2 linked regions of the Homo sapiens genome follow. The protein of the gene in region 1 interacts with the protein of each later gene in a biochemical or structural test. Each region holds a gene or a part of one and is shown on either strand. Other genes may lie near its edges. The genes, in order: EIF4ENIF1 and EIF4E.

Evidence for each region.
Region 2: the proteins of EIF4ENIF1 (region 1) and EIF4E interact in far-western blotting, tested with the Homo sapiens proteins (one study listed by BioGRID).

What each region holds. Positions count from the first base shown.
Region 1 is NC_000022.11:31,479,764-31,483,581, reverse strand, and holds part of EIF4ENIF1 (eukaryotic translation initiation factor 4E transporter), read left to right. Parts: intron 1-3,818. UniProt on the Homo sapiens protein: EIF4E-binding protein that regulates translation and stability of mRNAs in processing bodies (P-bodies). Plays a key role in P-bodies to coordinate the storage of translationally inactive mRNAs in the cytoplasm and prevent their degradation.
Region 2 is NC_000004.12:98,901,330-98,905,147, reverse strand, and holds part of EIF4E (eukaryotic translation initiation factor 4E), read left to right. Parts: intron 1-3,165; coding exon 3,166-3,272; intron 3,273-3,818. UniProt on the Homo sapiens protein: Acts in the cytoplasm to initiate and regulate protein synthesis and is required in the nucleus for export of a subset of mRNAs from the nucleus to the cytoplasm which promotes processes such as RNA capping, processing and splicing.

The sequences.
Region 1 (3,818 bases):
TGCATTTAACAAGCTCTTCAGGGGATTCTGGCTCTGGTTCAAGTTTGAGAACCATTGGCTTAAGAAATGATCACCTGCTCGCTGGGTGTGGTGGCTCACACTTGTAATCCCAGCAGTTAGGGAGACTGAGATGGGAGGATTGCTTGAGCCCAGGAGTTCAAGACCAGCCTGGGCAGGATGACAAGACCCTGTCACTACAAAAAAAATTTAAAAATTAGCTAGGTATGGTGGCGTATTGCCTGTAGTCTCAGCTACACAGGGGACTGAGGTGAGAGAATCGTTTGAGGCTGCAGTGAGCCATCATCGCGCCATTTCACTACAGCCTGTGCAACAAAAAGAGACCCTGTCTCAAAAAAAAAAAAAAAAAAAAAAGATCGTCTCCTGGCAGTGGTGCTCATTCAACTTTTTCTTCACCAGAAGCCCTTGTTCACCAGTTCTGGAATATAGTACCTGCTATTCTGTTAGTGATGCCATCTTCTGCTTGAAATACAAAATAGAAATGTTTTAGGCCATCCCACTATTCAGATCCATGTGGTTTTCTTTTCTGTTTTTTTGTTTTGAGACAGAGTCTCTGTCTGTCGCCAGGCTGGAGTGCAGTGGCCCTATGTCGGCTCACTGCAACCTCTGCCTCCCGGGTTCAAGCAATTTCCCTACCTCAGCCTCTTGAGTAGCTGGGACTACAGGCGCGTGCCTCCATGCCCAGCTAATTTTTTTTACATTTTAGTAGAGATGGGGTTTCACCATGTTGGCCAGGATGGTCTCGATCTCCTGATCTCATGATCCACCCACCTTGGCCTCCTAAAGTGCTCTGATTACAGGCGTGAGCCACCACGCCTGGCCTCACATCCATGTTATTTTCGTCAAGTGAATAGACTAATCTGTTTTTTTTTGTTTGTTTTTGAGACCGCGTCTCACTCTGTCACCCAGGCTGGAGTGCAGTGTTGCAATCTTGGCTCACTGCAACCTCTGCTTCCCAGGTTCAAGCAATTCTCCTGCCTCAGCCTCCTGAGTAGCTGGGATTACAGGCACGTGCCATGATGCCCAGCTAATTTTTGTATTTTTATTAGAAACGGGGTTTCACCATATTGGTAAGGTTGGTCTCAAACTCCTGACCTCAAGTGATCCACCTGCCGTGGCCTGCCAAAGTGCTGGGATTACAGGCGTGAGCTACCGCACCCGGCCAAATAGACTAATCTTATAAAGGATACATACGTTATGCTGTTCTTCCTTTGCTCCTGTGTTTTGCCACTGATTCCTTATTAAATGACTGTCACCTGCCAGTTGGACAGGGAATAAAAGCAGAGACACTCAGAACATTCAGCTTGATACTGACCAGTGTTAAACATGCGTATTAAAGTTAAGTGAATGTTGAATTATCTTAGTTTAACTTCATGTGGAATTTTTTTTTTTTTTTTTGAGACAGGCTCTCACTGTTATCCAGGCTGGAGTGCAGTGGTACAGTTAACTCACTGCAGCCTCGAACTCTGCATTCATGCGATCCTTCCACCTCAGCCTCCTGAGTAGCTAGGACTACAGGTGTGTGTCACCACACATGGCTAATTTTTTCATTTCTTTGTAGAGATAGGATCTCATTATGTTGCCCAGGCTGGTCTCCAACTCCTGACCTCAAGCGATCCTCCTGCCTCAGCCTCCTAAAGTGCTGGAATTCCAGGTGTGAGCCACTGCATCTGGCCCCATGTGGACTCCTCATAACCTTGACTAGTTACAAAGTGGCATTATTGTAGTCATTAGTGTCTCCAGGGATCTTTAAGGGAGGCCATCCTAATTTGTGGCTGGTAGGCCAATTGGTCATAGCAGTCAGTACAGCCATGTTTGTCTTTCCTTTAAAACAATCAGGAAAATGGACAAGCAGTTGAAGTGACTGACTTGAGTCATCCTAGCCTTCTTGGATATAATCAGAAGACTTGAAGCCAATCCCCAGAGAAAAGAGTAACTGATTTAAATCCTAGGTTGAAACAGGAATCAGGTGGTCCCTTTTTCCAGTACAGAAATCTTATTTGATAACTAAATGTATCTTTTATAAACTGAGTAGTAACTCAGGTGGCATTTCTGTGACAAATTTAGGTATAAACTTCTTAAACTAATTTAAGGATACCTATTTATGTTGGAGAAGGTAGAATTATGGTATGAAAAGTCATTGGGAGGACAAGGTGGGAGGATGAATTGAGTCCAGGAGTTCACGACCAGACTGGGCAATATAGTGAGACCCCATCTCGTTAAAAAAAAAAAAAATTGCCAGAGGTGGTGGTGTGCACCTGTGGTCCCAGATACTCAAGAGGCTAACGTGGGAGGATCACTTGAGCTTGGGAAGTTGAGCTTGCAGTGAGCTATGACTGCACCATTGCACTCCAGCATGGGCAACAGAGTGAGACTCTGTCTCAAAGGAAAAAAAAATTATTCAATCTTAATGTGTCAACTGTCCAGAAAACCTATCTTACTGGAAGTTGTTAGAGCAGGCTGGCTGGCAAGACCATAGAGAATAGCTTCTGACTGCTTTTTCCTACCCGTTCCTTTTTTGTTATTGTTGAGACAGAGTCTTGCACGATCTTGGCTCACTGCAACCTCCACCTCCCAGGTTGAAGTGATTCTCCTGCCTCAGCCTCCTGAGTAGTTGGGATTACAGGTGTGTGCCACCATGCCCAGCTGATTTTCTTTTTTTTAGTAGAGACGATTTCGCCATGTTGGCCAGGATGGTCTCAAACTCCTGACCTCAAGTGATCTGCCCACCTTGGTCTCCTAAAGTGCTGGGGTTACAGACGTGAGCCACTGCACCCGGCCCCTGCCTGTTCGGTTTTGTTTTGTTTTCAGAGGGAGTTTTGTTCCTGTTGCCCAGGCTGGAGTGCAATGGCGTGATCTTGGCTCACCACAACCTCTGCCTCCCGGGTTCAAGCGATTCTCCTGCCTTAGCCTCCCGAGTAGCTGGGACTACAGGCGCACGCCACCATGCCCGGCTAATTTTTTGTATTTTTAGTATAGATGGGGTTTCTCCATGTTAGGCTGGTCTCAAACTTCTGACCTCAGGTGATCTGCCCGTCTCACCCTCCCAAAGTGCTGGGATTACAGGCGTGAGCCACCACGCCCGCCCAGGAATATTTCCCTTTTAATCCCCCTTCCATAAATGTGACTTATGTGAAATTCTACATAATGTCAGAAGGTCCATCAGAATGCATAGTTGTTTCTGCATAGGATTTCTGCAGAAAGAAATGGATAAGGATTTTAACCATTGTTCTTTTGGGCTTTTGTTGAGATTCATTTGCTTTCCACTTTAATAGTGATCACCAAAAGTGGGTGTTCATACTAGTAATTCCCCAATAGGTTTTGGGAGCCTTGACACATTTTCTTTAAGGAAGGCTGCTGCAACTAAGAAAATATGTTTATGCTTCCTTGGGTGTGTGGCTCTTGGGCAATTAGCAGCTTGTTCTTGCCTAGTCAGGTTTTAGTAACCTGTGCAAAAAGTGAAGTCTCAGGTATTAACTCTTATATTCGCCATATGGTAATCTTAATGAATTCATTCGTGATCAGTAAGTTCCTATGGGTTAAGACTTTCCAGGCTAGGCACAGTGGCTCACACTTGTAATCCCAGCACTTTAGGAGGCTGAGGCAAGATGATCACTTGAGCCTAAGAGTTCAGACCAGCCTGGGCAACACAGCAAGACCTCATCTCTACAAAAAATTTTTTAAATTAGCTGGATGTGGTGGCATGCACCTGTAGTCTTAGCTGCTTGGGAGGCTGAGGCAAGAAAGATCACTTGAGTCCATGAGTTTTGAGGCTGCAGTGAGCTATGATCATGCCACTG
Region 2 (3,818 bases), on another chromosome or scaffold:
GAGTAGAGAGAGGAATATGGTAGGATTTTGCAGTAGAGTTTTGTTTTTAAACTGAATGTAAACTTAAAACTATTTAGTGTCTATAGGAAGCAATCTTAAAAATAAGGTTAGATACCTTAAAATAGAACTTGTTTCTTGAAATATTTTTTAGTTCCCATATAGATCATACGAAAAGATGACTGTCTATGCCCAATAAAAATTTTTATGGTATTTCACATCATTCGTTTTAAAATCTAGTATGTTTAAAAGTGAAGACTAAAGATTTTAAATTAGTATACTTACTGATTCATACATACACACATATTTAAAAATGTGTAGCTCCTTTTTTAAGTTGTTGGAAAAGTACAAAATCATGTGTCCTTTTTTGTTTTGTTTTGAGACTGAGTTTTGCTCTTGTCGCCCAGGCTGGAGAACAGTGGCACGATCTGTGCTCACTGCAATCTCTGCCTCCTGGGTTCAAGCAATTCTCTTGCCTTAGCCTCCCCAGTAGCTGGGATTACAGGCGCGTGCTACCACGCCCAGCTAATTTTTGCATTTTTAGTAGAGATGGGGTTTCACCATGTCGGCCAGGCTGGTCTTGAACTCCTGAGCTCAGGTGGTGCACTTGCCTTGACCTCCCAAAGTGCTGGGATTACAGGCGTGAGCCACCATGCCCGGCCGATTATGTGTTCTTGATATGAAGACTATAGTAATCAGTTACTTACAGTGGGACTTTTATTTTAATTCAAAATAACACTTTAAAATTCTAGGAACTGAATATGTTTTTCCTGAGTGATAACTTGCTTTTAATTCCTGTATGTCCAAAGACTTGAGAGAGAGAGAGAAAGAGGATTGTTTCTTTTTCTTTCTTCCCCTTTCTTCACTGGGTCTCACTTGCTGAGGCTGTTTTCGAACTCCTGGACTCAAGCAGTCCTCTCGCCTTGGCCTCTCAAAGTGCTGCAATTACAGACATAAGTCCCTGCACCCGTTCTGCTTACGTTTCACAAATACTGGGCAGTTGCAAGTTTTGGCTTAGCTGTTCTTCTCTGTTAGGCCAACCAGAGTTACGCTCTGAAAGTGCCAGTTTAGGAGTTAGCCAAAAACCTGTGAGGGATTTTTACATATATTGAGGAGCCCACTTCTCATCTACAGCAGTTTTTCTCTGGTACCCTGTCCCCCAAAGCCTACCTGCCTGCCAGTCTCTCATTGTTTTCATCGAGACTCCCACTGTCTGCCTGGAAACCCATCATTAATTTTAAGCTAGTGGGATAGGAAATGTCATTCAGTAATTATCTGTTTGAACACTTAAATTTACTGGTAAGTAAATGTTGATAAAAATGTTTGGTTTTAAGGCATTACTTACTGTATGTCAATTTTCAGGCCTTAATCATTCTGTGTAAACATTTAAATTTATTCAGTTAAGTAATCAAGTTAATAAGTTCCTGTTGGGTTAAGTACTGTGATTATTGAGTAAAATCAAGACATGGTCTCCGTTCTGGGTGACTTTATAGGCTAATAGAAATTCTTGTACATGTCATATGTTGATAAGAAAAAACATATCCCTTGGGAGGCCAAGGTGGGAGGATTGCTTGAGCTCAGGAGTTTGAGACCAGCCTGGCCAACATGGTGAGACCTTGTCTCTACTAAAAATAAAAAAGAATTAGCCAGGTATCATGGTGCCTATCTGTAGTCCCAGTTACCGTGGAAGCTGAGGCAAGAAGATTGCTTGAGCCAGGGAGATTGAGGCTGCAGTGAGCTATGAGTGAGACCCCATCTCTAAGAAAAATAAAATACAAAAAAAAAAAAAACCCATATTCTTTCAAATAAATATTTACCACCTTTCTGCTCTGCATTCTTTTAGACAATAAATATTTGACTTACATATCTTGTTATGTTAACATAGATCTCTGTTGTTTGCTGCTTCAGTCTGATATCCAAACACTTGTTGCATTGCCCTTTTTTTGGTATCAGTCTTTGTCCTAGTGCCTTTCTTTGGCTCTCTTCTTTTGTTGACAACAATTTATGATAGTATGAAGAGCTACATGGAAGAATGTGGTGAACACCTATTTTAAATTACTGCCCCCAGACTACTTTTCTTTCTGATATTTTTAGATGACAGTGTTAATTTTGTCTAGCCTAAAAGAAGATTTAAGTTCAAGCCAATGTCCATCTTGTTAGGTTCCATTGAAAATATTAAGTTGCCGAACTTTTAGGTTACGATAGGGTAAACAGTATGCCATGAAGGTAAGACCTGCGCATCATTGGCTTGATCACTTTACAAAGCTTTTTTGTCATCATAATGTTGTTTTGTTTTGTTTTGTTTGTTTTTGAGACAGGGTCTTGCCGTGTTGCCCAGGCTGGTCTCAAACTCCTGGGCTCAAGCAATCCTCCTATTAATCCTCCTATTAATCTCCCGAGTAGCTGGGATTGTAGAGACGCACCACAGTGCCCAGTGATACAGTTGTTATACTCTTGAAACTTTAGTTTCCATCCTGTATCCTTCCTGATACCCCCTTCAGTACCATATGCAGTATCTTAATATGATGGTATGTTAAGAAAGATAGAAGATTTTCCCAACTTTGTTGCATAGTCTGTGACAGTCTTCCTGCTATTTAAAAAAAAAAGTGCAAGTGGAAGGATAACTATAAATACTGTTATATTTTCAAATTTGAGAAACCGTTTGCTCTTTGCTCTTAATGAAGAGATATGAGAATAGAGAATGGTTCTTTAGAGTTTGGTCTGTGGTCTGTTTTATGAAGCAATCTGCTTTAATTCCTTCTTCTTAAAAAATACTACTAGTGCCGGGTGTGGTGGCTCACGCCTGTAATCCCAGCACTTTGGGAGGCCAAGGCAGGTGAATCACAAGGTCAGGAGTTCAAGACCAGCCTGACCAACGGGGTGAAACCCCGTCTCTACTAAAAATACAAAAATTAGCCAGGCATGGTGGCACACATCTGTAATCCCAGCTACTTAGGAGGCTGAGGCAGGAGAACTGCTTGAACCTGGGAGGAGGAGGAGGTTGCAGTGAGCCAAGATCGCACGACTGCACTCCAGCCTGGGCAACAGAGAGAGACTCTGTCTCAAAAAAAAAAAATTATCAGCATATCAGTTCAGGTTTAGTTAGAATATTGCTGTCATAGATGTGTTAAGACATTTAAAATAATGTTTTATATTATTTTCCACTAGGAAACCACCCCTACTCCTAATCCCCCGACTACAGAAGAGGAGAAAACGGAATCTAATCAGGAGGTTGCTAACCCAGAACACTATATTAAACATCCCCTACAGAACAGGTAAGCTTTCTAACACCTAGGTTTTCTGAGTTAGGCCACAAGGTAAATTGTGAATGGGGCAAGTTTGAAGGGAAAGTTAGATTATGAGACTAGTTTTAGATATGCTAAGGTTGAGGGTTCTATTTTCACTTGGATGACCCATGACCAGCAGACAGTTTTATGTGTGAGTCTTGAGTTCAAAAGGAGCTATGTGAGAGATTAGTTTGAAAAGTATTGGTCATAATGGAAGCCACATTAGTAAATAAGTTCCCTTAAGGAGAAGTGAACTTGACTCAGGACAAAGACCGGGGATACTAGCATCATATAGGAGGCTTTTGTTGAAGAAGAATGCCTATGAAGGATGGACATACAAAGACAGTGGTGGTCGCCCAACGCGGTGGCTCACGCCTGTAAACCCAGCACTTCAGGAGGCGGAGGCGGAGGCGGAGGCGGGCGGATCACCTGAGGTCAGGAGTTTGAGACCAACCTGGCCAACATGGTGAAACCCCGTCTCTACTAAAAAATACAAAAATTAGCTGGGTATGGTGGCAGACGCCTGTAATCCCA